Linked DNA regions of Homo sapiens. Each later gene encodes a partner of the first gene's protein in a complex. Each region holds a gene or a part of one and is shown in the gene's direction. Other genes may lie near its edges.

Region 1 (9,804 bases):
ACCATGTTAGCCAGGCCGGTCTCGAACTCCTGGCCCCAAGTTGATCTACCCACCTCGGCCTCCCAAAGTGCTAGGATTACAGGTATGAGCCACTGTGCCAGCCTACAAACTCATCTCTTGGTGGACATTTGGATTCTTTCCACCTTCTGTCTATTATGATAATGCTGCCGATCCCTGTTTTTTAAAAGTCTCCATGGTTCATCATATCAAGAAGAATGATAATCTCACAGTACCCTGGACCAGAAACCAAGACATAAGATCCAAATTATGATCTATGACCACTAACTTTTTCTATAATTCAGCAAGCTATTGTCCCTCCTCATCTGTAACCTATGTGGTTGAACTAGGATTTTCATGCAATTAGTGTGTCTTGGGAGGTGTTTCTGAGTATTTATTTGGAAGGTGCTCCTAAAAAGAGATAAAGAAAAGGAAAGGAAGATAATCAATGAATTCCTTGATCCAATTACTGCTGTGGACATCTAGGGTGCATTTCCACTGGGGACCTCTGAGACACGGTAGGGAATATATCTTAGTTATACGAGAGCTAAAAAGAAATTATTTAGACAGTTAGTGAGGGTAAGAGAGTCCTCAGTAAGGTTTTTCTTTTAATAAAAACGCAGTCTCCAAATCATTTCTTTTTTTAACAAAAAGCAGCCTGAAAAATCAAGCTGCAAGCATAGATAAGCAAGCTAGAGGCTTGCATAGGTAAATACCAGCAGCTGTGCCAATAGAAAACAGATAGCTGGAAACCAGGTATATTCAACATGGAGGTTCCCTCTTCCCTTTTCTTTGTTGCCACGTGTGCAGATAACATGGCACCAGCCAGGTTTTTTAAAATTCCATTTGCATAATAAAAGATTAGAGTGGGATGACCAGCCTCTTCACGGGCTATGAAAATGGCACATCTGGTCCAACCAATCCACTACACCCCATGTAAATCATATACCATCTCCTCACGCTCATCCCTAAAACCAACCACACCTTGCCCCAAACCAGGGAAACCCACTCAGGACCCCTTCTTCTGCATGAGGAAGCTCTCTTCCTTCTTTCATCTATTTAACTTTCCACTCTTAAACCCACTCCTTGCATGGCCATGTCTTCAATTTCCTTAGCATGAGACATCGAACCTCGGGTGTTACCCCAGAAAAATGACGCTGCTTCATTAGAGTTAGCACATCCAAGGGGCAAGGGAACTGGCTCCTCTGTGGTTGGCTGAGGGCTTCTCTCAGGGTGTCTTCTCTGGTCCCCTTGGGTTCCCACTTGTGTCGACAAAGCTTTCTCCAGAAGGCCCTCAGAGTTGCACCTGCTCACAGTTAGGAAGTTTGGGGCATGCGCAGAAGGGCACATGCAGATGGGGTATGATGGTCCCAACAGCATATGTTAAAGTGATTATGAAACTTTGATATTCAAATCCCTGGGAGCTTACATTTTAAAGAGATGAGACAGAGACAGACTTCCTCTCATTGTTTTCACCTCCGTTGGATCTTTGCCTGGATACTGCTTTAGTTTGTCACTTGTCCTCTAGAAAAGGGGTAGAAAGTGTACATCCTTTTCTCCTCCATTCCTTCAAAGCTCTTAAAAGAGGATAGAGATGCCAGGTGCAGTGGCTCACACCTGTAATCCCAGCACTTTGGGAGGCCGAGGAGGGTGGATCACCTGAGGTCAGGAGTTTGAGACCAGCCTGGCCAACATGGTGAAACCCCGTCTCTACTAAAAATACAAAAAGTAGCCAGGCGTGGTGGGGTGCGCCTGTGGTCCCAGCTACTTGGGAGGCTGAGGCAGAAGAATCGCTTGAACCCGGGAGACGGAGGTTGCAGTGAGCCGACATTGCACCACTGCACTCCAGCCTGAGTGAAAAGAGTGAAACTCCATCTCAAAAAAAAAAAAAAAGAGGATAGACTTGAGGTGAACTTTATTAAGAACATTGTGTTACCTTGAACTGGGCACTTCTCCCTTCTAGGTTTCAGCTTACCCTGTGAGTGAAGCTATTTATTTAAAAAAAACTTTATTGAAAATAAAATAAAGATACAGGAAACTACACAAAAGAAATGTATGGCTTAGTAAGTTACTACAAGGCAAACATGTTAATAATTACCAACCCAGGTCAAGAAACAGAATTTTCTCAGACAACCTAAAAGTCACAAAATGAGGCTATTTGCCAATTAAGGTTGTAGACCAAATGCTGTAGAATGAACTTCTTTTAATTCTATGTTGATGACTCTCTGTCACAATATTCACATCTCAGTGCAAAGAGAACACAAGAATGTCTAGCAAGAAAAGATGGACAAGTTTCTCAAACATTGGCAGTGTTACTTACATTGGCTAGGCAAAATTCAGAAGGCCTGGTGGAAATCTGGTTAAGCCCTAAAAGTAAGCTTGTAATTCTATCCTAGCAGCCCACACACATTTGAGTCTGTCTTAGTCAGCTCAGACTGCTATAACAAATCATCAACTGGGTGGCTTAAACAACAGAGATTTACTTCTCCCAGGTCCGAAAGCTGGAAGTCTAATATCAGTGATATAATTTGGATACTTTTCCCCCTAAATCTTACACTGAAATGTAATCCCATGTTGGAGGTGAGGCCTCCAACATGGTGGGAGGTGACTGCATCATGGAGGTGGACTTCTCATGAATAGTGTAGCACCATCGTCTTGGTGCTGCCCTCACAAGATCTGGTTGTTTAAAAGCGTGCGGCACCTCCTCCCACTTTTTTTCTTACTCCCACTCTTGCCATGTGATACATCAATACATCGGCTCCCCCTTGGCTTCCTGAGGCCTCACCAGAAGCAAGCAGATACCCAGAGCCATGCTTGCTGTACAGCCTACAGAACCATAAGCCAAGTAAACCTCTTTTCTTTATAACTTACTCAACCTCAAATATTTCTTTATAGCAATACAAGAATGGCCTAATACAATCAGGGTGCCAGGATGGTTGATGTGTGGTGAGGGCTCTTTCCCTGAGTTGCAGATGGCCGCCTTCTTGCTTTGTCATCACATGGCCTTTCCATTGAGCATGGGCGTGAATAGACAGCATGCGAGCAAGCTCTCCAGCGTCTCTTCTTCCCATAAGTACCCTGATCTCATCATGGGGGCCCCACTCTCATGAGCTCATCTAACCCTAATTACCCCTTGAAGGCCCCACCTCCAAACATTATAAAATTGGGAGTGGGAGTGCAAATGTATGAATTTTGGGGGGATACAATTTAGTCTACAGCATAGTCCAAATGTGAAATTTCTTCCTCCAGCTACCGATGTTTAGTGAGAACACTGCCTGTTCTCACCACATGTGCATATGTGTGTGGACTCTTTCCTCTGGAGGGCAAGAACTTGGTTTTGTTCACTGTTGTAACCAAGAGTTACAACAGTGCCTGGCTCATAATTGGCACTCAATATTGCCATTGAGTTATTTGTGATCAGAGCCCTGGCTGTTCTTAGATGGGGAGGGTTCTTCAGAACAGTACAAATGTTTGTAGACAGGCCAGCTGGGGAACCAAAGGTCTTTTTGATGAGGTGCCATGACCATGATGTAGTGGGGAGTGGCCAGGTGATCCAGAATTCAGTCTCAGTATGACCTATGATCATCTGAGTGACCTCAGGCAAAACTGTTCGATCTCTGGGACTTAGACTCTTCCTTATATAAAACAAATGGGTTGGTCAGTTCAGAAGTGCTATACTGATTCTAATCCATCCTATGGAGGAGGCCCCAAAACATTATCCTTAACCCTTTTAATCATAAATTTAAGGATAAATGAGATTTTATCTCACTCTGGGTGACTTTTAAGGACTTGAAAACCTACTTCTTTTTGTGCTTGGAGCTGGAGTGAATTTGAAGCCAGGGTTGCGGGGGTGGGGGAGGGGTACTCCTAGCTGTGGCTGTGTTAAAATTGCCCTGGTTTGTTTGGGGGAGAATCTAGGGTATTTATCATTTGTCTTTGCCCTGGTGCCAGACAGACAGCAGTGAGTAGATGATGCCTTTTACACAGCAATGTGCTAACAGTTATACTTCCTGGCACACCTCCAGCCCCCAAGATGGAATGGTCTGACATCCATATCAGCAGAGAATCAGAGAAAGATGAGACGCTCTGATGCTTAGGAAAGTCACAAACCATTGTTACACAGATAAGTAACACAAAATGACCCAAGAGAGACACAGCTGGGACCCAAGTAGACACTTGTAATTGGCGAGTCTACCCTACCCATGATTTTCAATATGGGGTCAATAGCTGATAGATACCAATGTTAGTTTCTTTGTCATGAAATCTTGATACAATGTGGTAAGAGTTTCCAATCAGCAGTTGGTGGCATCCTCAGGATATTGTTGATTGTATTTGACATCAAGGGCCACCCATGCTTTCACTGTTATCTTATTCAAGCTAGTGCAGATGTCTTAAAACTTTCTTCATGCATCAAAGCATCTGCATAGCTCAGATAAAGAATCCACAGCTCATGTGTTCTTTCTTATCTCTCCGGCTGTTTGGGAGAGATTTCAAAACTCAACACCCCACTGTCTCATGTAACCAAGTCAGGGCCACTATTAGAAAAGCAGCTCAAAGAAGATATCCTGGGTCATCCACAGTATCTTAGCTTATTTAATTCAGCAAGCACATTCAACATTTCTGATTATACTGAATACATTCAAATTCTCAGTCATCAGCTTCAGGAAGACCCTCCTGGCTCCCATCCCTTTTCCTGGCTCCCATCCCTTTTCCTGGCCTGGCTTAAGTCCCTTCTGGGCTCCCACAGGATCCCTTACCTAGCTATATTATTGCTTTTCTGTGGGTCGGTGCCAGCCTGTACTGTATTAATTCCTTTGGGGCTGGAACCATATCTTATTTTTTTAAATTAAAAAGTAGTACATCCTCACAATAGAAAACTTTTCAAATACAGAACTATATAAATGAAAAGTGAAAGTCCCTTTTCTGTCTGCTCCTATTTGCAATCTCCCTCCTCTCCCCACAGAAGACCACTATTAACAATGTGTTGTATACCCTTCCAGAACTTTCCATTTGCTAGCCTAATAGTGCTAATAAAAGTGTTAACAGTTATTGAGTGTTTACTAAGAGTCAAGTGCTATGCTCAGCATTTTTATGCACGTTCCCAATTAATTCACAAAACAAGCCTATGAAGTAGGTGTTATTTTTGTTCCCATTTCACAAAAGAAGAGACTAAGGTGACAGTTACTAAATGGTAAAGCCAGAATCTGAACATGGCCAGGCTGAATTCAGAGCTCCTGCCCTTGAACTTGTTCTCTCACTTGCTTCCGGACCTTGCAATATCATAGACACTTCCCCATAGTGACCTAAAAATGGTTTCTCCCTTTTTAAAAGTTGCTTGGTATTCTACAAAATGAATGTATTCCATTCATTTTGCCATTCTCCTACTGAACAACTTTTAGGATTTTGTAGTTTTTCATTTCCTTATTTCACCAAGTGTAAGATTCCATTATTGTAAAAAGCATCCAGTTTCAGAAATTAAAATATATGGGGGCATGGGGGGTGACAAGTGCATCTTAGAATATATTTTTGCATGTAAATATTTTGTAGATAATGCTTGTAAATAATTTTCATGTGTGTATTTCTGCACAAGTTTCCTAGGAGTAAAATTGTGTGTCAAAATGAAGGTGCATTTTTAAATTTTGATGCATACTGCTGAATTCCCCCCAGGAAACCTTATCTTAGTCATCTTGTGTTCCTCATTTCCTTAGCACAATGTCTGGTACTTTTTTAGGTACTAAATAAATGTTCAGTGGGTGAAATGCATGACCTGACCCGGCAAATGCAAAGTATTTTGAGATATTCACACACCAAAAAACCCACAAAATATGACAATGACTGACAATGAGAAGATGAGAATATTTTACTACCGTATTTGTATGCACTTCTTGTTGAAGCACTGACCAGAGTAAATGACAAACGCTAATGCATCTTATGCAGAAGGATGTTTCCGAAGTGATTACAAGATATCTTGCAAAATTACCTATCAAAAGATTGCACACTCAATAAAAATACACGAATAACTCCAGCATTTTACAACCCCCAACCTACTAGACATAAGAAATTTCCAGAGATCTTATGGTCTGCCATTTTTTCAAATACCTGCAAGACTGCCTGCACCCCCGACCCTAATCTGTAGAAATCATGATTCTGCAGGTCTGCAGTGGGGGATGCATTTAACAAGCGCTCCAGGTTAACCTAATGCACTGTAAAGCGTGAGAACACGTGCATTAAAAGGGCTTTAAGAAGTGGAGTTTCTGAATCAGATTTGCATTTTAGAAAGATCCCTCTGGCTGCAGAGTGTAGAATCAACTATAAGTGAGCAAAGATAGCTAAATGGCATTATTCAGCCCAGCGCATGAACGGCTCAGATTGCCCGCGCGCTGGGGTGCCCCCTGCCGGCCCTCGGCAGCGCCTCGTCCTGGGCCTGGCCCTGGGCGGCCGGCTGCTGACTGCGACTGCGCGCTCCGAGGCCTGCAGAGACGGCCCGGGGCACCTGTTACCGCACCGCTCAAGACCGGAAGCGGAAATGGAATCGAGATAGCCTCGCGCGTTTAGCTGGCCGCCGCCACCTCCACGCCCTAGGCCGGGCCGACTTACGGAGTCGCCGGAAGCGGAAGTCGCTGAGGGGTGGTGAAGCGGTTGGGAAAGTGTCGGTTTATCTTCGCGCCCCTTGCGTTCTTGCCGCGGCTTGCCTGGGCAGGTAAAGCGCGATTGCGAGAGCTCGGCAACCCTGCCGACTCAGCCGGAACCGGCTCCCGGCCCGAGGGGCGTGGTGTCCTGGTGCTCCGACTCCTTCCGCAGGCTCCTTGGGACCCGCGGTTCCGGGAGTCCCTTGCTCAGGGTCCCTTTCCTGCAGTGAGGCGCCGTCCGCCTTCCCTGTGTCCCCGCAGACCCCCATCATGGGCAATACCAGCAGTGAGCGCGCCGCGCTGGAGCGGCATGGTGGCCATAAGACGCCCCGGAGGGACAGCTCGGGGGGCACCAAGGACGGGGACAGGCCCAAGATCCTGATGGACAGCCCCGAAGACGCCGACCTCTTCCACTCCGAGGAAATCAAGGTGCGAGCGGTGTGGAGGAACCCGATTCCCCTTGACTAATGTTGAGGAGAGGAACCCTCCACTAGATTCCCGTCACATCCTTTCGAAAAACACCAGAACGGAGAGGGAGGTGGTACATTACCCGGTGCACTTAAAAGCCAGATGGTCCTGTAAGAGTTCTCTTAGCGGTCCAAGAACCTGTGTCTAATTACCAATATGAGAAAGTCACCCTGAGGGAGGAGGTGCTCACTTGGTTTAACATCATTAAGGAGAAAGCAGCTCTGGGACAGAGTTTCAAATTCTTAATTAATTCAGAGTCGAGCTAACAGTAATTGAGCCCCAGCTTCTGCTTTTCTCTTAGGTGTAATTAATTGCACTGCTTTGAGACAAATTCCCTCACCTTTACACAAACTGGAGCTTTTGTAAAAGTTAGTTTGGGAATTTATCCATTTTGGAGGCAAACCAGGTACATATACAAGCTGAAAGTAGAGCGGAACAGCTGACGGCAGTTGCCAGAGGTGTTTAGTTCTGCCCAACACTTTTGATTCACCCTACTTATTTTTTAAAAGACGGTGGTCTCACTAATTAGCCGGGCGTGGTGGCGGGCGCCTGTGGTCCCAGCTACTCGGGAGGCTGAGGCAGGAGAATGGCGTGAACCCGGGAGGCGCAGCTTGCAGTGAGCCGAGGTCGCGCCACTGCACTCCAGCCTGGGCGACAGAGCTAGACTTCGTCTCAAAAAAAAAATATAAATAAAAATAAAAAAGACGGTGGTCTCACAATGTTCTCCAGGCTGGTCTCGAACTCCCGGGTTCAAGCAATCTTTATGCCTTGGCCTCCCAAAGTGCTGGGATCGCAGGCGTGAGCTACGGTGCTGGCCGGTTCAGCCTACTTTTTTTTTTTTTTGAGACCGAGTCTCGCTCTGTCGCCCAGGCTGGAGTGCAGTGGCGCGATCTCGGCTCACTGCAAGCTCCGCCTCCTAGGTTCACGCCATTCTCCTGCCTCAGCCTCCCGAGTAGCTGGGACGACAGGCACCCGCCACCACGCCCGGCTAATTTTTTATATTTTTAGTAGAGACGGGGTTTCACCGTGTTAGCCAGGATGGTCTCCATCTCCTGACCTCAGGAGATCCGCCTGCCTCGGCCTCCCAAAGTGCTGGGATTACAGGCGTGAGCCACTGAACCCACCCTACTTATTTTTTTTTTTTCCTTCTTTGAGATGGAGTCTCACTCTGTTGCCCAGGCTGGAGGGCAGTAGCACAATCTCGGGGCACTGCAACCTTCGTCTCCCGGACTCAAACCATCCTGCCTCAGCCTCCCGAGTAGCTGGGACTACAGGCGTGTGCCACCATGCCTGGCTAATTTTGTGTATTTTTGGTAGAGGTGGGGTTTCGCCATGTTGCCCAGGTTGGTCTTGAACTCCTGACCTCAAGTGATCCGCCCGCCTGGGCCGCCCAAAGTGCTGCGATTACAGGCATGAGCCACCACTCCCGGCCTCACCCTGCTTTTTTTTAAAGCGTACATAGAAAAGTCTTTCAGCTTCTAGAGGTCAGTGGGCGGTGAGGGTCTGTCTGAAGGAGGCAGCCAGCAGCTACTGAACTTCTCTCTAGTGTTGTTTAAATATGACTTAATCGTGCTTAAGCAGGCCAGTGCAAACATTTTTCTTCCTGCTGCAGCCTGTTTAAATTCAAAAACTCAGGTGACTTAACTCCTGCTTCAACCACACTCCTGTTAACCACCTTCATATGGTGGATATTTCCAGCCGCAGGGCTCAGTCCAAGGACACTTAGTGATTCTGGCAGCTGGTATTTATGTGTTATGTCCAAAAGGAACTAATTGTTTCAAGGAACAAAGTAGGTTTAGGAAAGATAAAGCTGCCCTCTGCCCAACATACCCTGTTAGTATCCAATTTCATGTTAATCATCATCCATTTAATTGCTTGGCAGCTCATTCCATCTGTGTTTGTCCTCATGTTGAGCGAGGTGATCACATCTCACACCTTCTTTTGGATCTTAGTTTTGAGCCTGACTACAAAGAGGCTGCTTTTATGTGGCCCTACAACCTGTGGTTTGAACTTGCTCTCTGAATTTGTTGCATTCTTGAAGAGCTGTGTGCAAAGTGAACTTTAGAATCATGTTTCTCTAATGACTTGACGTCCTTTCCCCAGGAGGTAATTTTGGTCCCTGGTCCCAAGAAGGCTATTTAAGACACCAAAGGAATCAAAACTACTTTCTTCAGAAGTATTTGTTCTGTTACTATTCCAAAACTCCTCCAGGAAATGTTGAGCACACACATCATCTATGGGGAATGATTTCAAGCAGCGTCCATTCTCACTTCATTAGAAGTTACTGAAATCCCCAGATACCAAAAAAGTCGTGAATTCTTTTAACTACACTAGGGTGCTATTTTGGTCATAATTAGTTATCCTTAGTGTGAAGTGATTCCAGTCTGTTATTTAATATGTAGATCTTGTTAGAATTCAAAGAATACAGGCATCATTTGGATAAGCTGAGGTCGGTATTTGAGATGAAGGTGCTAGAAGCCTGCTTAACTCCCTGAAGAGTCTTTTCCAGCCTGAACCTTCTGCTCTTTTTAAGTCTTTGGCTTCTGACTGGGAAAAAATCTAAAAGGTGCATGACTACATATGTCATCCAGATAGATTTGGATGAGTTTATTTCTTATTCTGGAATACCTCAGTTATACGGAGCTTACCACACTGGAGGTTATCATTTATCCTAATGAGGGTTCAGTCTTTGTCTTGCTTTATTCCCCAG
Region 2 (9,676 bases), on another chromosome or scaffold:
TAAGCTCCACGAGTAGAGGCACCAACTTTTGATCTCACCGAGTACAATACAAGTAGGTACTCAATAAATGTTGTGTCACCATTTAATAGCTTAGTGCCTGGCAGACAGTAAGTGCTTAGTAACGTTATGATTTTCATTGCTCTAGACTGGCCTTTAGTGTAAGACAGTGGCTGCTAAGGATTTAGAGGTTTCATGAAATAATTAATTCCAAGAATATCTGTTGAAGACCTGTGATATACTCAGAAATGGCAGCTAAATTTATTTATTAGAATGTCATCACTTCTTTTCTTTTGTGCCCCATCTAGGATGTACAGAGCACAAAAGTGATTGAAAATTGTTACTAAATCAGACCAACCTACAGTGAGGTGCTACAGCAGATGCACCTGCCCTACAGTATTCAGTTTACGTGATCACTTTGGTGCTTGTAAAGATAGCTTTTATAAAACTATTTCTTCTAGAGTTCTCAGTATAATTACCTTTCCAAAGTTCATTTGAAATAGTCTCAATTCTTCTTCAGTCATATTCGTTTATTTTATATAAATTAGAATACCTTGCCATGTTTCTTCCCAAAGACTAATGATTGCCATTCAAAATATTTCTTCTGGCCAGGCTTGGTGGCTCATGCCTGTAATCCCAGCATTTTGGGAGGCCAAGGCGGGCAGATCACTTGAGGTCAGGAGTTCGAGACCAGCCTGGCCAACATGGTGAAACCCCCCTCTCTACTAAAAATACAAAAATTAGCCGGGCATGGTGGTGCATGCCTGTAGTCCCAGCTACTCGGGAGGTTGAGGCAGGAGAATTTCTTGAACCCAGGAGGTGGGGTGCGCAGTGAGCCGAGAGCATGGCCGCTGCACTCCAGCCTGAGTGGCAGAGCAAGACTCTGTCTCAAACAAAAGAAAAAAAGTAACTAATTTTAACGTCTCCAAAACTTGGTTTGGTAAAATTGTGTATAGGGGTGTAAGTTGTAGTTTTTGGGAAAAAAATTTATTTTATCAAATAAAGCTAATTTTTTTTCTTAGTTTTTAATGTGCCCAGCTTTGGATGCCTAGAAACACAGACACACAGACACACACACACACACACACACACACACACACACACACACTCTTAATTTTTCATGATGGGAATTGTTTAACATTTACAAAAGTAACGCGGTGAAACCCCATGCATGTCTTATTCACCTTCAACAGTAGTCAATTCATTGTTTTATCTACGCCAGATTATTTTGAAGCAAATCTCAACATTATCTTTTTAATCTGTAAACTCTTCAGTATCTACTCTAGAAAATACTTTTTTAAACTCTAAATAACATAAGCATAGTATCATCACATCTTTTTTTTTTTTTTTTTGAAGCGGAGTCTCGCTCTGTTGCCCATGCTGGAGTGCAGTGGCACGATCTTGGCTCACCGCAAGCTCTGCCTCCCGGGTTCACGCCATTCTCCTGCCTCAGCCTCCCGAGTAGCTGGGACTACAGGTGCCCGCCACCATGCCCAGCTAATTTTTTGTATTTTTAGTAGAGACGGGGTTTCACCGTGTTTGGTTTAGCCAGGATGGTCTCAATCTCCTGACCTTGTGATCTGTCCGCCTCGGCCTCCCAAAGTGCTGGGATTACAGGCGTGAGCCACCACGCCCGGCCTATCACATCTTAATTAAAATAATTAACAACATTATCCACCACTAATCAGCATGTAGACTTTCCTGATTGTTTCATAAATGGTTTTTAAAGTTGGTTTATTTGAATCAGAATCAAAATAAGTCTATACAGCATAATTGGTCAATATGTCTCTTAAGTTACTTTTAACGTATAGTTTATCCTTTCCCTTTTTTTCTTGCATTTTATTTGTTGAGGAAATGGTCATTTTTCACTTCCTGGATTTTGCTGAATGTATCCCTGTAGTATCATGTTACGTGTCCAGGAAAATATATGTATGTTTTACAGAAATGAGGTCTTGCTATGTTGCCCAGGCTGGTAAAATACTGACTTTAGAAGATATATTCCACTTAATTGCCAACATGAAGCCTATGCTTTTCAAAATCGGTTCCATAAAATCATGTTGAAGATCAGTTATTTTCTTTTCTTAGCACTTTCATGTATGTTCTGTTTTAGTTTGTTTTGCTGTCAATTCCCCAAAACATTGCCCTGAGCTCAAGTGATTCTCCCACCTTGGCCTTCCAAAGTGCTGGGATTACAGGCATGAGCCATAGTGTCTGGCCCAAGTATATTTTCTGTTTATCTTTAAATATGTGATACCTCATCTCCTTTTACTGTAAACAAATTTTTGTTTATATGGAAAAATTAGTTGTTGAAGAGGGAAAGATTTCAAAAATTATGTAAACTTGAAAGGGAGGATCTAAAGGAACGGCCGTGAGCCTCAAGAAATAGAATAATTTTGTAATGGTCCGTGTTTATTGCTCTGTGATTATTTTGATAACATGTAATTTGTTGCCATCTTAAAGTATTATAAAACATTGAAATATAAAATTGTAGCAAGAGTAGATATACCAGTTTGATTTTGGTTAAAGTAACATACTTTGTTAACTTTTTTTAATTAACAAAAAAGATACCAGGTGATCAGCACTCCAACAGATTTTTTTATGGTAATGGAATATGTGTCTGGAGGTGAATTATTTGACTACATCTGTAAGCATGGACGGGTGAGTAACATACTATCTGGTACACTAAATCTCTAAACTAATAAAAAGGAAAGTATTGGGACATAGAACAATGCAAAGATATCTTCAAGGTTGAAGTTGCTTTTATGGTAGTGCTCAACTAAACATGTAGAGTGTTAGATAAATTTTCTTTCTTAAAAAGCATTCCTTTTGAAATACTGATTTTAGAAAATATGTTTCACTTAATTGCCAACATGATGCGTATGCTTTTTAAAATCTGTTCCATAAAATCATGTTGAAGATCAGTTATTTCCTTTTCTTAGCACTTTCACATATGTTCTGTTTTAGTTTGTTTTACTGTCAATTCCCCAAAACATTGTGCACATTTAATAATATTAATTGAAATTTAAATATTTCTGCTTAGCGACAAAGACAAACTTGTCTTTTGACATGTTGAGCTTTGACAAGCTTTTGGTTGGTTTATTTTGTCTGATTTGTTGAGAATTCCAACATAATTCTAGCTTGCTTAATTATATTTAGCCTAATTATGAAATTAAAACTCTTGTCAAATAGATGTCTCAGATTTTTTTTTTTTTTTTTTTTTTGAGACAGACTCTTGCTCTGTTGCCCAGGCTGGAGCGCAGTGGCATGATCTCAGCTCACTGCAACCTCTGCCTCCTGGTACAAGCAATTCTCGTGTCCCACTCTCCTGAGTAGCTGGAACTACAGGTGCATGTCACCATGCCCGGCTAATTTTTGTATTTTTAGTAGAGATGGAGTTTCACCTTATTGGTCAGGCTGGTCTCAAACTCCTGACCTCAGGTAATCCACCTGCCTTGGCTGGGATTACAGGCATGAGCCACTGTGCCCAGCCCCAGATATTCTTAATGCAGTTTCTTTTGTGCTTGATAGGTTGAAGAGATGGAAGCCAGGCGGCTCTTTCAGCAGATTCTGTCTGCTGTGGATTACTGTCATAGGCATATGGTTGTTCATCGAGACCTGAAACCAGAGAATGTCCTGTTGGATGCACACATGAATGCCAAGATAGCCGATTTCGGTATGTAACTCCAGGGTTGTTCAGAAAGGTACTAGCTACCTTTTAAAGCATAACAACTCATTGAACTAAGAACTTTACTTTTCAACCTTGTACGTTCTGTACCATGAAAAGGAATTAGCTGAAATCTCCTCAGTAGCTTTTTTTTTTCATTTAATTAAATTTTCATTAATTTTCATTAAATACACTTTAAAAATGCAGATACCTCTAGAGAAGTTAGAAGGTTGTCATCAAGATAAATCCATTCAATCTGCATTTTCTCCTAAGGAAATGATGCATAACTGTTTTTTTGTTTTTTTTTTTTTTGAAGAGAGGGGAGGAGTCCCAGACTTCTTTGAAAATCTCATGAAAGTATGGGCACTTTCCCTGATGAATGCATATAAACCAAGGTACCTGAAAATATGCATGCAGTTGGAAAAAAGCCCTTCTGAACTGATCCACAAAGAGGTCCTTAGGTGTAACGTCTAATAACTTGATTAGAGAACAGTTTTTGTCAGGGGTAAAAGGTACATAAAATGTGATTTTTATACTCCAAACACTTTCTGGGATAAACATACGTGGAAAGGATGCCTTAATAGGGTATTTGAGAAAAAGACTAGGAAGTGAGAGATTAAAGAGAAAGAGATAGAAAGGTACAGGCTATTGTTGCCTATTTGTGGTCTATACCTTGTCTTTAATCTAAAAACCTAGAAACTACTTTCTCTATTTCTCTTCCTTCTCTAAATCATGAAACTTATTTATTACTATAGCTCAGCTAGATTTTTGGTTCAATAGATTATTTTTTCCATGTTGAATTAAATATTTCTAAATTAAAAACTTTTGGAACATAATCTCTTTATGAGGTGGGGCCCATCTGGTTTCTAATTACAGAATTTAAAGAGGCTTTTGAAAGCACAGGGCAAAAAAGTAGTAGTCTCTATTTTATTCTTTCAACTATGGAAATAGGTAAATAATATTTTGATGTTTTCATGTTTGGGAAAGTTAATATGCTTCAGAATAACCTCATTTGTGATGGGAATCAACATTTTTATTTAGAAAGGAAATTTAGTTTCACTCATATATGTGATGTGCTTTAGCTTTTTGTTACAGTGTAAGCACTCTGAGACGGTCTCTTTCCAGTTAAATGCTTTCCACTGCTTTTTTTTAATAACTTAAAAAAAAATGATATATGGAGGATCCAGGACTTGAAATTTTGCTCATATTTATATGACTTTATCTACTTTTAAAAATATCTAGCACCAAGTAAACATTACTTTTATTTTTAGGATTATCTAATATGATGTCAGATGGTGAATTTCTGAGAACTAGTTGCGGATCTCCAAATTATGCAGCACCTGAAGTCATCTCAGGCAGGTAATAATCAGTGAAGCATAAGCTTTTTGTAATCTTGTGTTCATTTTGATAACATTTAATTACAATATATTCTCTATGGAAGGTAAGATTTTAACATGGTAGAAATGGATTATTCATTTATTTTTCCACTGTTAAAGGGATAATGGTTATATCAAAAAATGTTAAACATTTCATTTAGATGTCATTATAAATATACTTACGAAGTTTTCCCCATTAGAAAAATAACTGAAGTAGATCCTGATTTAACATATCTTTCATTTTACAAAAGTGCAGATAAGAGAGTAAGAATTTGCTAAATTTAAGCTAGTGTCATTTATTTATTAGATATAGTTCTTTAATAATACCTTGCATATTTTCCAAAGTATATAGAGCATTGTTTTATATTTTGTGTTTGGAAAAATGAGATTTTGGGGGAAAATATTGTTTCATGAAATTACACAAGTAGAGATTGTGTAGTTACTCATAACTTATTCATTGGTACATTATAAAAATGTTTATACAGATTGCAGTGGTAAACTCAAGTCTTTCTACAGTGATCAACGTGTGATTTTAAAAGTTAACAGAATCCTATAAGAGAAAATATGGTTAAAGTATTATTGCAAATAGCAGATAAAGAATTATCTTAGTCCATTTGGGCTGCTATAAGAAAGATACAATAAAGGTGATAGCTTATAAACAACAGAAATGTATTTCTCACAGTTCTGAAGTCTGGGAAGTCCAAGATCAAGATTTGGTATCTGGTGAGGGTCTGCTTCCTAATAGACTACTGTATGCTCACTGTAACTTCACATGGTGAAAGGGACAAGGGATCTCTCTGGGGTCGCTCTTATAAGGGCACTAATCCCATTCATGAGAACTCTGCACTAGTGACCTAATCACCCCCCTTAAGTCCCCACCTCCTAATACTATCTCCTTGGGGGTTAGGATTTCAACACATGAATTTTGAGAGGACATAAGCATTCAGTCCATTGCAAGGAGTTTGAACAATACAGCAAATGATGTAAACAATCACCATTTTTTATATAAACAGATTATATTCTTTTCATTAGAATAGTAAAGATTTACTTTGTTACCTCAGACCCAGGTTTGAGTATGGTAATATGCTATCATGGGAATTGTAATGCTGTAGAAACGTAAGAGAAAAAAGGAATAATACTATAAGCATAGGTTATCTGGATCAAAGATGATTTTAGTCATATGAGTTAGGAAGTGATGAGAATAGAAATAGTAAGTACTCAGGATAATGTGATACAGGATAAATACTGTCTACACAGTACTAATTAAGTACTTTAATGTTTTAAATATCTCTCTCTCTATATATATGATATATTATATATATATATATATATATTTTTTGTTTTGAGATAGAGTCTCGCTCTGTCACCTAGGCTAGAGTGCAGTGGCACAATCTCAGCTCACTGTACCACCTCCTGGGCTCAGATGATCCTCCCACCTCAGCCTTCTGAGTAGCTGGGACTAAGATGTGCACCACCATCCCTGGCTATTTTTTGTATTTTTAGTAGAAACAGCGTTTCACCATGTTGCCCAGGCTGGCCTCAAACTCGTAGCCTCAAGCAATCCGCCCGCCTCAGCCTCCCAAAGTACTAGGATTACAGGTGTGAGCTACCGTGACCAGCCTTAATATTCTTTAAAGGTGTGCCAGGGGTAGAAATTCTATTATATGTATACATTATATATATGTTTTCTTTCTTGTAATAGTTCTTTGGGAAAAAGATTTAACCTATACACCATAGTATTTTTTCAAGTTTGTGGTCATCTACTTTGTTTCCCTCAAAAATCAACCACAGAAAGTATTATATGTTTTAATTCGTATGTTTCAGTTAAATGAATTTGTGACAAATAAAAATACCCTATTCACTTGGCAGGCTTGAATAGTAGTTGGCTAGCCCCATTACTCTCTTTGGGGAACAAACACTGAATATTGGGGAGCAGCCATGGACTTCATTAAAGACCTTGGAAATGAATATGTACTGAATGTAGACTACCTATATATAGAAGTAGGGTACATAGAGAAAAAGTGATTCTTGCATTTCAGGTTTGTGTTGTCATCTTTTTTCTTAGATTGTATGCAGGTCCTGAAGTTGATATCTGGAGCTGTGGTGTTATCTTGTATGCTCTTCTTTGTGGCACCCTCCCATTTGATGATGAGCATGTACCTACGTTATTTAAGAAGATCCGAGGGGGTGTCTTTTATATCCCAGAATATCTCAATCGTTCTGTCGCCACTCTCCTGATGCATATGCTGCAGGTTGACCCACTGAAACGAGCAACTATCAAAGACATAAGGTGATTTTTCTTTTTGTTTCTGTTCTGCATATTTTCTCATAGGAATAATAATGTTAATTAAATGATTCTCCCAAAGTCTCATTTCCTGCCCTCACCACCTCACCCCAGTACTCATGCTTCAGCCACATTGAACTTGTCCTTGTTTCTCAAACCTAACATAGATTTTATGCCTTCATGTCTTTGTTTATATTATTCACTTTGCCTTGATGTCTTTTCTTGTTTCTTTTTTGACCTGATAGACTTCCATTCATCCATTAAAGTTCATGCCACCCCTTTTGTGATTTCCACACGTGCTTCCATTTCTGTTTTATCAACATTTTGTTCATGCTTTTATTATTTAATCCTCATCCTGTATCTAGTTATTTCTCAGTGTGTCTTTTTTCTCTCTTAAATTATGATATCAGGGTAGAGAGTGTGTCTTATTCATCTTTGACTACACAATGCTAAAAGGCCTGGAAAGATGGTATGCTTAGAAAGTGTCTGAAGAAATTTCAAATGGAGAAATAGGGTGAGATTTTGTATTTTACATATGGTTAAAGACATAAAGCATAAAAAGTTTTGCTAAGTTTTTGAATTCAATAGCTGCTAGTCAGCTTACTGTGAAGGCTTTTTTGTCACTTGAGAAAGTTTGGAAAGTGCCATTGCTGATGCGCCTATGAATATGACCTTTGTATATCCCACACCTGTGTATAGTAGCAAGATGATTCACTGCATCCTGCCTATGACTTATCAAGGCATGTTTCTTAGAGGTTTTTTCTTCTTACCTAAGATTTCATCCGTGTTTGTTTACAAACATGTTCTTTTGACATCTTTCCAGAACTCTTTCCCCTTTTCATCATTAGCCAGCAAAGAATTTTTTTTTTTTTTTAAGGCAGGGTCTCACTCTGTCGCCCAGGCTGGAGTGCAGTGGTGTGATCACAGCTCACTGTAGGTAGCCTCAACCTCCCAAGCTGAGGTGTTCCTCCCACCCCAGGCTCCTGAGTAGCTGGGACTATAGGCACAAGCCACCACACCCAGCTAATTTTTTTTAATTTTTTTATTTTTAGTAGAAATGGAGTTTTGCCATGTTGCCCAGGCTGGTCTTGAACTTCTGGGCTCAAGCAATCCACCCACCTTGCCCTCCCAAAGTGCTGGGATTACAAGTGTGAGTCGTTGCACCCAGTTCCAGAAAAGACTGTTTTGAGACCTCTGACCTTTGGAATATTTAAATGATGGCTGAGATAGCTGTTTATGTGACTGCTGCTGATTTCATACAGGCAAGGACTGATGATTCTTTTTGCATTTATGTATCATTTTCTTTTCCCAGCCTTTCTTCAGTGTTCCAAACCTCATGTATAACAATGTAAAAGTGTAAATTAGCCACCAGATTTAATTATAAAAATGAACTTAGCAGGAAAAAAACTCTTTGTGTTTATAGTTCTTTAGCATATATACTTCTGTTAATGACTTTTCCTTAGAAAATTAGACATGCTGATATATTTGCAGCTGCTCATATCAGCATATACATTTAGAATAGTAATAGGCTGGGGGCAGTGTCTCATGCCTGTAATCCCAACACTTTGCGAGGCTGAGATGGGAAGATTGCTTGAGCCCAGAAGGTCAAGACTAGCCTGGTCAACATAGTAAGCGCCCATCTATATTAAAATTTTTTTTTTATTAAAAAAAAAGTCAAATGGTAATGATTCATTGCTTTAAAACAGGTGTTTGTATATTTATATACTTCAGAAGAAAAATGTAAATATATTTACTGGGAAGAGTTAATTTGTACGTAGGTAGATGGCATGAAAGTATCATTCATCTCTATACTTTAATATGATAACTTGAATCTATAGTTTTCATCTTTTTAAATTTATGTCATATATATATTTACTTATCTATATTCAATTTTTTAATGTTTGGGAATTCTCATTTTTTTAATTCTTTTTTTTTTTTTTTTTTAAAGAGATGGGGTCTTGCTATGTTTACCAGGCTGGTCTTGAACTCCTGGCCTAAAGCAGTTTTCCCATCTTGGCCTCCCAAAGTGCTAGGATTACAGGCATAAGCCACCACGCCTGGCCAATGTTTGGGAATTCTTGATTTGATAAAATATAGTTCAATAGGGAAAAGAATTACTAATCATGGAAAAATTACAAAATACCAAGCATTCTGCTTTATGGCTTAACTTATGTTATTGCATTGACTTTTCATATATAGCTATAAACCATTTTACAAACCATGAAACTGAAGCTCAGAAAGGTTACATCATGATTTATGTATCTGTTTGCCCCTATTAAATTATAAATTACTTTAAATTAGGGACCAATTATTAATTCATAGCAAAATGCACAAGGTCTAACACATATTAAATGT
Region 3 (9,676 bases), on another chromosome or scaffold:
TCAAATTCTTAGAAGGAAAACTACAGATTAAAAAAGAAAAGATCCTGATCATGTAATTTGTGTGTGTGTTTATGAATTTGAATGATCTCTTGGCATGGCTGTCAGGGCACTGCCTCTATTCCTGCCACTGTGATACGATCATACTTTTGTGATTTCTTCTATTACTTCAAAAGGGAAGAAGTTATACCACCATACTTTAAAACAATTAATTTATAATTTGATGAAATGCTCAAGTATTAGAAAAAAGTTTTATGGTATATCTTGATTGGTTATGGATTTTGTTCTGCTTATTATGCCTTCTTTTGGGTGGTTGGGGGGCTTCTGTTATTTACAGGTGGATTAATATTCTGCTCCGTATTACTCATGAGTTAAATTATACTCAATTCCCTATTCCGTAGTTACCACCTTCCCTCCTATTTTTGCTAATTTCCTCCTCATTTTTTGTTGTGTGTTCTATAAAATTTCCCATCACATTATTATTGCTACTACCTACTGTTTTCTAAATGATTTTAATTGTATTGTAAAATTCTTCTTGCTCTGCTCTAATTTCATACCTCCTATATTTTCTTATCACTCTGAAAATAGTTAATAAATTTTGCTAATACAATCATGCATTTCATGGATGAGTTTAATGTCTATTCATTTTTTTGTTTTATTCTTTTGTATTATAAGACTTTTTGCTTTTTCTCACTTTACTGTTATTTTTGTCATCATTACAGGCCGGGAAGGTCCCATAGCCCAGGTTGCTTTTGGTCAATACTGTTTTCCCCAGCAGCATTAACTGGCATGTAGGAGATGCTCAGTACATAATGCCAAAATAATGAATTTGAGAGAATGCTTTGAATTCCTATTCCAGTTCCTTATTAAATGACAGGATATATGTCCAGAGTTTTGGATAAGCTCCAGTCATTTCTTAAAGTTAATTGGGGTTGAAGTTCAGTTGAGCAGGGTATCATAGGAGTTTGGTTGGTTTGTGATGGTTTGGGAGTTCAGGCCCAAATTGGATTCTGTCTTAGTATTCTTTCCAGGTCTTGAGTCCACCAGTATTATCCAGTATTGTGGCTATTTCCCAGTCCTGTTTCAGCTGAGCAGCTGTCAAGAGAAAGTCTGTGCCAAGCCAGAGCTTGGAGATTCTTGGAGGATGTGTTTAGCACCATGCTTAGGTTTCAACATACTTGTTCTAAGAAAAAAGATACTTCCTGAAGCAAGCTTTAACAGTCAAGTTGGCTGCTCTTAATCACATCTAATTAGTACTGGAGATTGGAGAAAGCCTTATTAGAAATTAGAATGTGCTTCATTTCCACAGTTGATTTCAGCTGTGATTATAGGGTTGCCTTCCTTCTTTCTCTTATACATTTCATACTACACCCCCATCCTCCTAATATAGTTATATCGTACTTTTAATAAAACCTATATTTGGTTTTTTCATAATTGTGGCTGTGTAAATACTATTTGCTAAGTCAGTATCTATGACTATGTTTTATTTCTTACAGAACTTTAATTTTACTGGCATTCATGAATTATCTCATTTTTTTCATTTGTTTAATTTTTTTACCTAAAGCTTAATTTCTTACATCTTCCAGTGCCTTTGTAAAATCCCTCAGAAATAACTATCTTGGATTCTCTGTCACATTCCTGTCTGGATTTGTTGCCTTCTAGGCCTTCTCCATATGTTACTGTGACTTTGCTTCACCATTTTGAGATTCTCTTAGTTTTTCTCCTATATTGGATCCCTTCTTTGCTGGATTCCATGCCATCTTTCTTGGGTTTCTTCCTGATTTTGATGGAATATATATTCTCCAGTAGGTTCCTGAGAAAGGGTGCACAAAGGTTAAATTTTTGGAGACTTAGCCTCATGACTGTCTAAATTCTACTGGTGATCATATCCCCAAAAGACCAAATCCCTAATGCCATAATCCCAAATGTTGAAATACTGAAAGATCAAAATCTCTAAAAATCAGAATCCCTAAATTCTAAAAATCTCACACATCTGAAATCCTGAAAATCAGAATCATGAAAGATTAAAATCCCAAATGTTGAAATGCTGAAAGCCAACACCTGGGGTAGAAATTAGTGCACATTCGGTTGTATGAAAGATAGTTGCATCATTTTACTTGCATCATATTAGGTGGAACCGATTGCCTTTTTATTGTATTTATTTGGAAATTAAGTATGGTTTAAGGAGATGGTTTATGGGTGCCAAATTGACGAGGGGTGGATTCATGGATTTAATTTTAGGTGTCAACTTGACTGGATTAAGAAATACCTAGAAACTTGTTAAAGCATTATTTTGGGTTTGTCTGTGAGGAGATTAGTATGTGAGTCTGAGTGGACTAGGTGGGGAAGATCTGCCCTCAATAGCGGTGGCCACCATTAAATCTGCTGGGGGCCCAGAGAAAACAAATTGTTGCCTTTCTGAGAGCTGGAACGGACTTTTCTTCTGCTGAATTGAACATCAGAACTCCAGGCTTGTTGGCATTTGGACTCTAGGACATACACCAGCAGCCCCCTGGGTCCTGGGCTTTCAGCCTCAGACTGAGACCTGGTTTGGCTTGGTTCTGAGGTCTTTGGACTGAGCCAAGCTACCAGCATGCCAGGGTCTCCAGCTTGAAAATGACCTGTCCTGGAACTTATCAGCCACTATAATCGCATGAGCCAATTCCCCTAATAAATCGTCTCTCATATATCTATGTATATATATATCTTATTGGTTATGTCTCTCAAGAATGCTGTCTGTCGAGAATTATGTCTGTCGAGAATGCTGACTAATACGGATTTGGTATTGAGAAAGCCAAATATCATTCCTTCTTACTGTATTCCTTACAGCACAGTGGAAGAGACCTGTGAAATTGTTCCCTTGCAAAAAGGCTGTGATAAATTAAGTATACCAGGCTACTTAATGCTGAAAGAGAAAAGTTTAAAAGCTAATTATTATTGGTGTTGTGAAGACAGAAAATCACTTAATTGCAATGGCCAAGCAATAACCAGATTTCTAAATGGTCAGCATATACTTACAAAATATTTAGACCACAACCGCTCTAGTCTAAACACAAGTGAATGTTTTGAAGATCATAGAAGTGAATATGCAGGTGAAAAATATAAGAAAGCTCCCCTGCCAAATTATTCAATCAGGTATGACTTCTGCCCTTTCACACATAGTGCCAATTTGCTATGCTATGTATTTTATCTTTGCATCATTTCTAATACTGCAGGTATAAATTCTGTAAAGGCTTTTAGAGAATTCTAATTCATTTTATGCACTTTTTTTTTGCATATTTGACTCCATGAAAGTGCATTATCACAATGTGACGTAATGTGTAAGCATTGTGCATGTACATAAAAATGTTGAAACTTGCTCAGTAAATGAAGAGATGTCCGTTTTGTTCATCTGTATTTGTGAAAGATAAAATTTCTCAAGATCTTGGCTCTTTGGGTGACTCTATTGCAGTTTTTGTGCAAACGGTAGTGACCCATTGCAGTTTTTGATCGATCTTGTCAGAAGATTCAGGTTGTCTGGTATTTCAGATGACCGCAGTTATGAATCTGGGTGCACCTGATTACCAACCATAGTGATACGTGTTTATCCATTTTGCTTTTTAATCTATTTCTTCATGAATACATTTTCTCTGTTCCTATTATACCCATGCAATGGTTGTTAGTATACCTGAGTATTTATGCTTGCAAAAATATGTTATTAGTGCCTATTTTATTGTGTAAAGGGGCCTATGAACTGTTCCGTTGTGTTTTTATGTTTCTCAAATAAATCTTTTAAAAATGGAAATAAGTGTCTTTTAGAGAACTTTTTACAAATTATTTTTCCAGAATTCAATTTTTTGGATTTTGTTCTTTTGGGATTGTGATTTTTGGAATTTTAGATTTTAGGGATTTTGATCTTTTGGGATTTCAACATTTGGGATTATGGCATTTGGGATTGTGTCTTTTGGGATTATGTCCTAAACCCAAATTCTGTCACCACCGACTGTCTAGTGATAACATTTAAAATGGAAAGATAAAATGACTTGATTTTTTTTTTCCCTTTATTTTTAACTGCATTTAAAAAAATAGAGGCTGGGCATGGTGGCTCACACCTATAATCCTAGCACTTTGGGAAGTTGAGGCTGGTGGATTGCTTGAACTGAGGAGTTTGAGACCATCCTGGTCAATATGGTAAAACATCATTTCTACAGAAAAATACAAAAAAATTATCTGGGTGTGGTGGGGCCTGCCTGTAGTCCCAGCTACTTGGGAGGCTGAGATGGGAGGATCACCTGATCACCTGAGCCTGGGGAGGTTAACGCTGCAGTGAGCTCTGATTGTGACACGGCACTCCACCCTGGGTGATAGAGTGACACCCTGTCTCAAAAAAAAAAAAAAAAAAAAAAAAATTAAAAAACAGGAAAAAAAATTTAAAACACAGAGAAACCAAAAAAACTAGAAACCACATGCACATGAACCAGAATTTCAAAGGTATAAGAGGTTATGGATGGGGAAATGTATCTATGACATGAGAGAGTCTTTTGGGATGATGGAACTGTTCTGTATCTGACTATATAATGCTGGTTACACCAATTTCTATATGTTTTAATATCCATATAAATGATACTAAAAGAAAAATTTTAGTCTGTGTGTATGATAGGTTAAAAGGTGAAAAATTAAAAGAATTTAAAAATACGAAAAGGTATACAGCAAAAAAGTCTCCTTCCCCTCTTCCTTTAGTCTTCTAGCTTTCTCTTCTGGAAGAAACCACTGTTACCAATTTCTTATGTATTCTCCTATGTAATCACTCTTAAACATCTGAACATTTGGGATGAATCTGGCAAAAGAGAAAATAACTTATATTTGCTTAGCTATTTTCTGAGGATGCTAGATGACTACTCTTATAATATGTCTAAATATATTATTATTTTTATTTTGTTGAGGCAGAGTCTCAATCATCACCCCAGACTGGAGTGCAGTGGTGCAATCTGGGCTCACTGCAACCTCTGCCTCCCAGGTTCAAGTGATTCTCCTGCTTCACCTCCCAAGTAGCTGGGATTACAGGCATGTGCCACCACTGCACCCAGCTAATTTTTGTATTTGTTTGTTTGTTTGAGACAGAGTTTTGCTCTTGTTGCCCAAGCTGGAGTGCAGTGGTGTGATCTCGGCTCACTGCAACCTCCGCCTCCTGGGTTCAAGCGATTCTCCTGCCTCAGCCTCCCGAGTAGCTGGGATTACAGCTGTGTACCAGCACGCCTCGCCAATTTTTTGTATTTTTAGTAGAAACGGGGTTTCACCATGTTAGCCGGGCTGGTCTCGAACTCCTGATCTCAGGTGATCTGCCCGCCTCGGCCTCCCAAAGTGCTGGGATTACAGGCATGAGCCACCGCTCCCGGCCATTAATTTTTGTATTTTTTAGTAGAGATGGGGTTTTGCCATGTTGGCCAGATTGGTTTCGAACTCCTGACCTCAAGTGATCTACTCGCCTCGGCCTCCCAAAGTGCTGGGATTACAGGCATGAGCCACTGCACCGGGCCAGAATATGTGTAAATATATTATTAATCATACTTAGTACTAATTTATTAAATTACTTCTTTTACAGTTGGCAAACATGAATTGACTGGGCATAAAGTAGCTGTGAAGATACTCAATCGACAGAAGATTCGGAGCCTTGATGTGGTAGGAAAAATCCGCAGAGAAATTCAGAACCTCAAGCTTTTCAGGCATCCTCATATAATTAAACTGTAAGCTCTGTTTATATTAAATATAGTCCAGTCATCTTTTCATCTTTTTTGTTAACCTACTTAATGTGACAAGTGAGAAAAATGACTGACACTTCTTTTTGTTTCCTAAGGGTTTTGAAAAGTTTCTTCCTAGGCTGTGTGCGGTGGCTCACACCTGTAATTCCAGTACTTTGGGAGGCTGAGGCAGGCGGATCACCTGAGGTCAGGAGTTCGAGACCAGCCTGGCCAACATGGTGAAACCCTGTCTCCAGTAAAAATACAAAAATTAGCTGGGCATGGTGGTGGGCGCCTGTAATACCAGCTACTCGGGAGGCTAAGGCAGGAGAATGGCTTGAACCTGGGAGGCGGAGGTTGCAGTGAGCTGAGATCGTGCCATTGCACTCCAGCTTGGGCAACAAAAGCGAAACTCTGTCCCAAAAAAAAATAAAAGTTTCTTCCCATTCATGTATTTTTCTAACCCCATTGATGGTCATTTAAGCCTGTGTTCATGTTTTGCCCTTGTGCTTATCAGCTGTTATCTTCTCATTCTTTCCTGTCTCCTGGAAAGATGCTCTTCTGGTAATGTTTGGTGCCCCATTGCTGTAAAACCAACAGTGATCTGCTAGTAAAAACTCTTGACCTCCAAATGCCCACATGATGTCAGTTAGCCTCACTAGTGAGAATGCGGTAGTAGAAAGGGTTTTTCCCCATCCTGCTTATACCTGAACATATAGATAACAAAATTTCAGGAATCCAAGGTTTCAAAAGGGCAGTAATCTTACTGTTGTTTTACAGTTGCCAGTTATAGAGTCTACAAATAACTATTTCCTGCTCAGCTTCTGCTTTGTTATGCAGGCAATAACTTAAAGATGCTTAGGTTTTTCTCCTGAACTGGCTGACTCAAACTTGTTTCACTCTTACCTCTTCTCATTTGTTGAGTGCTAGGTTTTAAATACCATCCATATGCTGACCACCCCTAAATGTACATCTCTTGCTTTAAGATCTCTTCTTACACCAGACTTATTTGCTCACTGCTGACTTTACATTTCCATTTGGATGTTCGCAAGACATTTAAAACTCAACCCGGCCCAAAATGAACTCTTTATTACTCTCCCAAACCTGCTCTTCCCACAGTTTTCACCATCTTGGCTAACAGCCAATGACCCAGGGCTAAAACTTAGGAACCATTTTTAACTTCCCTGTTTCTTTCACTTTCTACCATGCATTTCATTTCTTCCTTCACAATCAAGCTAGGATTTGATTGCTTCTCAGTTCCTTTATTGCTGTCAACCTGGTCTCAGCCACCATCTGTCTCATGAAATCCTGAAGTAACCTCCTGTGGCTACCTTTACTGTTGACAGTTAATTCTTCACATTGCTGCCATAGTTTTACTTTTAATATGCCAGATCACATGACTGCTTAAAACGTACGATAGCTTTTCATCTTCCTTGGAGTAAAAGCCAAAGCCTTATCATGGCTTGTAAAATTCTGTGTCTTCTGGCCTGCAGTTAACACCTTTGACTCTACATCCTATTTCTCTCTAATATTCCTCGAACATGCCAAGCAGGCTTCTACTTGGGGACCTTTGCAGTTGCTATTCCCTCTCCCAGTTTCGCTTTCCTCCTAGATAATTACATAATTTGTTCCCATTCTTCTTTTAGGCTCAGCTCAAATGTTACTTTATTAGAGGCTTTCCTTTAGCACTCTGTATACAAAGATTCCCCTTCATTTGCTTTATTTTTCTTCATAGCATGTTCCACCACCTGAGATATTGCTTATTTATTTAGTGTCTGTTTCCTGGTTCCTGGAACATGAACTCCATGAGAGCAGAGAATTTTTGTTTCCTGCAGTTTTTCTAGCTCCTAGCCTAGTACCTGGTATACTATAGGTGCTTAGTAAATATTTATTGAATGAATGAATATATGTGTTTTAATATTTGTAGACAATGTTTTCTCTCACCAGGTACCAGGTCATCAGTACACCATCTGATATTTTCATGGTGATGGAATATGTCTCAGGAGGAGAGCTATTTGATTATATCTGTAAGAATGGAAGGGTAAGCTGTTCTGCTTTAATTCTGTATGTATTTTGTAACTCCCCTTTATCCTTTACTAGCATCAAAATGTCAGCAACCAATTTTAAGAGGTCTATTTAATAACCAGTTCCCTTAGTCATATATTTGTTTAGAATCATAAACTATGTAGAACTAGAAAGGATCTTAAAGATTATCTCCTTAGCCTGTTTATACAGATGTGGATACTGAGCCTCGCGGCTTATATGATTGCTCACAGTAACGTGATTTATTAATGACGGAATTGGCTTGAGCCCCCAGAACTCATAATCCTCAGACTTATGCTTCCAGGGTATACAAATACTTTGAATATGTATCTTAATGTAATTAATCGTTACAAAATATATTATTATTACTTAAAGATCTAGGCCTTGCTAGTCAATTCTAGCCACATTTAAATTGCATTCATTTTTTGGTTTCAGAAATCTGATGTACCTGGAGTAGTAAAAACAGGCTCCACGAAGGAGGTAGGAATTAGATATAAAGAATTTACAGCTGGAAGGAACTTTGTAGGACATTTTGAACACTACCTTAAGTTACAGATACAAAAACTCAACACTGCCCTCTGCCCATACTTTTTCTCATACCCAGGTTATGTGGTATGCAAAAGCCCCTTTGTGGGAGAGCTGTAGCTAGCCCTGAAAAGAGAGCTTTTCTCTCAATTTTAAGTTATTTACATTACTCATTCATTTGTTCTATATAGCATGTCTATTTACTTTTATCAAAATCAAACTTATTAACCAAGTTAATTTTGATTTTACTATTTCTTAACATGATTCATTTCTATTTCAGGTACTCCCCTTTACTCCTGCTTCTCCTTACCAAAAAAAAAAAAAAAAAAAAAATTCTGCCTGGAGAAATGGGAAACAGGCACAATTGATATATATTTTTCTTATCTTTTCTGTTGTTGTTTATTTCTTGGTTTTACCTTGTGGGTATTTCTTCAGTTTTACCAGTTGAATATTAAAATTTCAGCACCCGTATTTTCTATTTCAAAAGTTTCTTATTTTCTGAAATTTTCATTTTTTTAGTCTGCTGTTATTTGCCTCACAGATATAATAACCTAGTCTGAGGATGGCATTTTAAAAAAAGTCTTCCTCTGTTCCGTCTTGTTCTGTACCTTCTGTGCTCTCTGCATTCATTTTATTCATTTTTGTCTTTGATGCATGGCCCTTCTTCAGATATTTGGTGATTCTTGGCTGTCCACTAAATATTTAAGAATAGGGTATTAAATGCCAGGCTCATGTGGGTAGGACTTACTGATTGCTGGGTTTTCTCATAGCTTGAATAGGTAGGGACTTGTCTGTTTTATTACTGTATACCAAATGCTAATAATAACAAATATGTTTTCTTGGATCAGATATTTGCTCCAGAAGAAACCTTCCCATTTCCTTAAAGGCCTTAGCTTAGCTGCCAGTGCTCCAGGAGCTGAGTGGAGAAAAGAGATGCAAGTCTCACTAGTTAGTATGTTGACTTTGTCTTAGCCCCCATGTTTTCCTTAGGATGCCTTATCCCTGCCTTGGTGTCCTTGAGAGCAGAGCTGGTTCAGCCTTACTAGAGTAAATTATAGGTCTTATTCCCCAATATGGGTGAGTTTAAAAGCTTCTTACTTCAAGCACTTGTCCTGTTTTCAGCTCATCTCTCACTTCTACCTTGAGCAGTTCCCTGTGTTTCCAATTTCTAAGGCTTCCCAGGCTTTGTATGCAGATGTTTATTTTTTACTGGTTTCTACCCCTATAGGCTTAGGTTTTAGCTTTCTCTTGTAGGCTTAGTCTTTATTACTGTTTATCTATTGTCATCCTTGGTGACTCCTCTTGATTACTGCTGTCTCTTTTGTTCTTTTTGTCTTTATATGCCTGTTTTATTGCTGATGTCATTTTAGTGATGTTTCAAGAGTTGGAGACAA

What was found.
Region 2: the proteins of PRKAB1 (region 1) and PRKAA2 are in contact, whole or in part, in a crystal structure (PDB 8BIK), measured with the Homo sapiens proteins. Residues at the interface, in NP_006244.2 of Homo sapiens: Pro79, Thr80, Val81, Arg83, Thr106, Ser108, Asn111, Val113, Ile115, Gln154, Val155, Asp159, Phe160, Glu161, Val162, Phe163, Ala165, Leu166, Asp169, Ser170, Lys172, Cys173, Pro186, Tyr187, His188, Gln189, Glu190, Pro191, Tyr192, Ala202; in NP_006243.2 of Homo sapiens: Gly9, Val11, Lys12, Ile13, Thr21, Lys29, Lys31, Asn48, Arg49, Arg53, Asp56, Val58, Ile61, Lys62, Ile65, Gln66, Lys69, Val82 (codon at 2,569), Ile83 (codon at 2,572), Ser84 (codon at 2,575), Thr85 (codon at 2,578), Pro86 (codon at 2,581), Thr87 (codon at 2,584), Asp88 (codon at 2,587), Phe89 (codon at 2,590), Phe90 (codon at 2,593), Met134 (codon at 3,595), Met164 (codon at 4,947), Ser165 (codon at 4,950), Asp166 (codon at 4,953).
Region 3: the proteins of PRKAB1 (region 1) and PRKAA1 are in contact, whole or in part, in a crystal structure (PDB 6C9H), measured with the Homo sapiens proteins. Residues at the interface, in NP_006244.2 of Homo sapiens: Pro79, Val81, Arg83, Leu103, Pro104, Thr106, Val113, Ile115, Asp159, Phe160, Glu161, Val162, Phe163, Ala165, Leu166, Met167, Val168, Asp169, Ser170, Gln171, Arg201, Ala202, Pro203, Pro204, Ile205, Leu206, Pro207, Pro208, His209, Leu210; in NP_006242.5 of Homo sapiens: Gly20, Val22, Lys23, Ile24, Thr32, Lys40, Lys42, Asn59 (codon at 5,626), Arg60 (codon at 5,629), Ile63 (codon at 5,638), Arg64 (codon at 5,641), Val69 (codon at 5,656), Ile72 (codon at 5,665), Arg73 (codon at 5,668), Ile76 (codon at 5,677), Gln77 (codon at 5,680), Val93 (codon at 7,669), Ser95 (codon at 7,675), Thr96 (codon at 7,678), Pro97 (codon at 7,681), Ser98 (codon at 7,684), Asp99 (codon at 7,687), Ile100 (codon at 7,690), Phe101 (codon at 7,693), Met145, Met175, Ser176, Asp177, Gly178, Glu179.

What each region holds. Positions count from the first base shown.
Region 1 is NC_000012.12:119,661,349-119,671,152, forward strand, and holds the start of PRKAB1 (5'-AMP-activated protein kinase subunit beta-1), read left to right. Parts: upstream 1-6,784; 5' UTR 6,785-6,896; coding exon 6,897-7,055; intron 7,056-9,804. UniProt on the Homo sapiens protein: Non-catalytic subunit of AMP-activated protein kinase (AMPK), an energy sensor protein kinase that plays a key role in regulating cellular energy metabolism.
Region 2 is NC_000001.11:56,688,833-56,698,508, forward strand, and holds part of PRKAA2 (5'-AMP-activated protein kinase catalytic subunit alpha-2), read left to right. Parts: intron 1-2,561; coding exon 2,562-2,655; intron 2,656-3,525; coding exon 3,526-3,670; intron 3,671-4,932; coding exon 4,933-5,020; intron 5,021-7,102; coding exon 7,103-7,327; intron 7,328-9,676. UniProt on the Homo sapiens protein: Catalytic subunit of AMP-activated protein kinase (AMPK), an energy sensor protein kinase that plays a key role in regulating cellular energy metabolism.
Region 3 is NC_000005.10:40,773,489-40,783,164, reverse strand, and holds part of PRKAA1 (5'-AMP-activated protein kinase catalytic subunit alpha-1), read left to right. Parts: intron 1-610; exon of another isoform or gene 611-1,810; intron 1,811-2,826; exon of another isoform or gene 2,827-3,083; coding exon of another isoform or gene 3,084-3,132; intron 3,133-5,578; coding exon 5,579-5,720; intron 5,721-7,661; coding exon 7,662-7,755; intron 7,756-8,192; coding exon of another isoform or gene 8,193-8,237; intron 8,238-9,676. UniProt on the Homo sapiens protein: Catalytic subunit of AMP-activated protein kinase (AMPK), an energy sensor protein kinase that plays a key role in regulating cellular energy metabolism.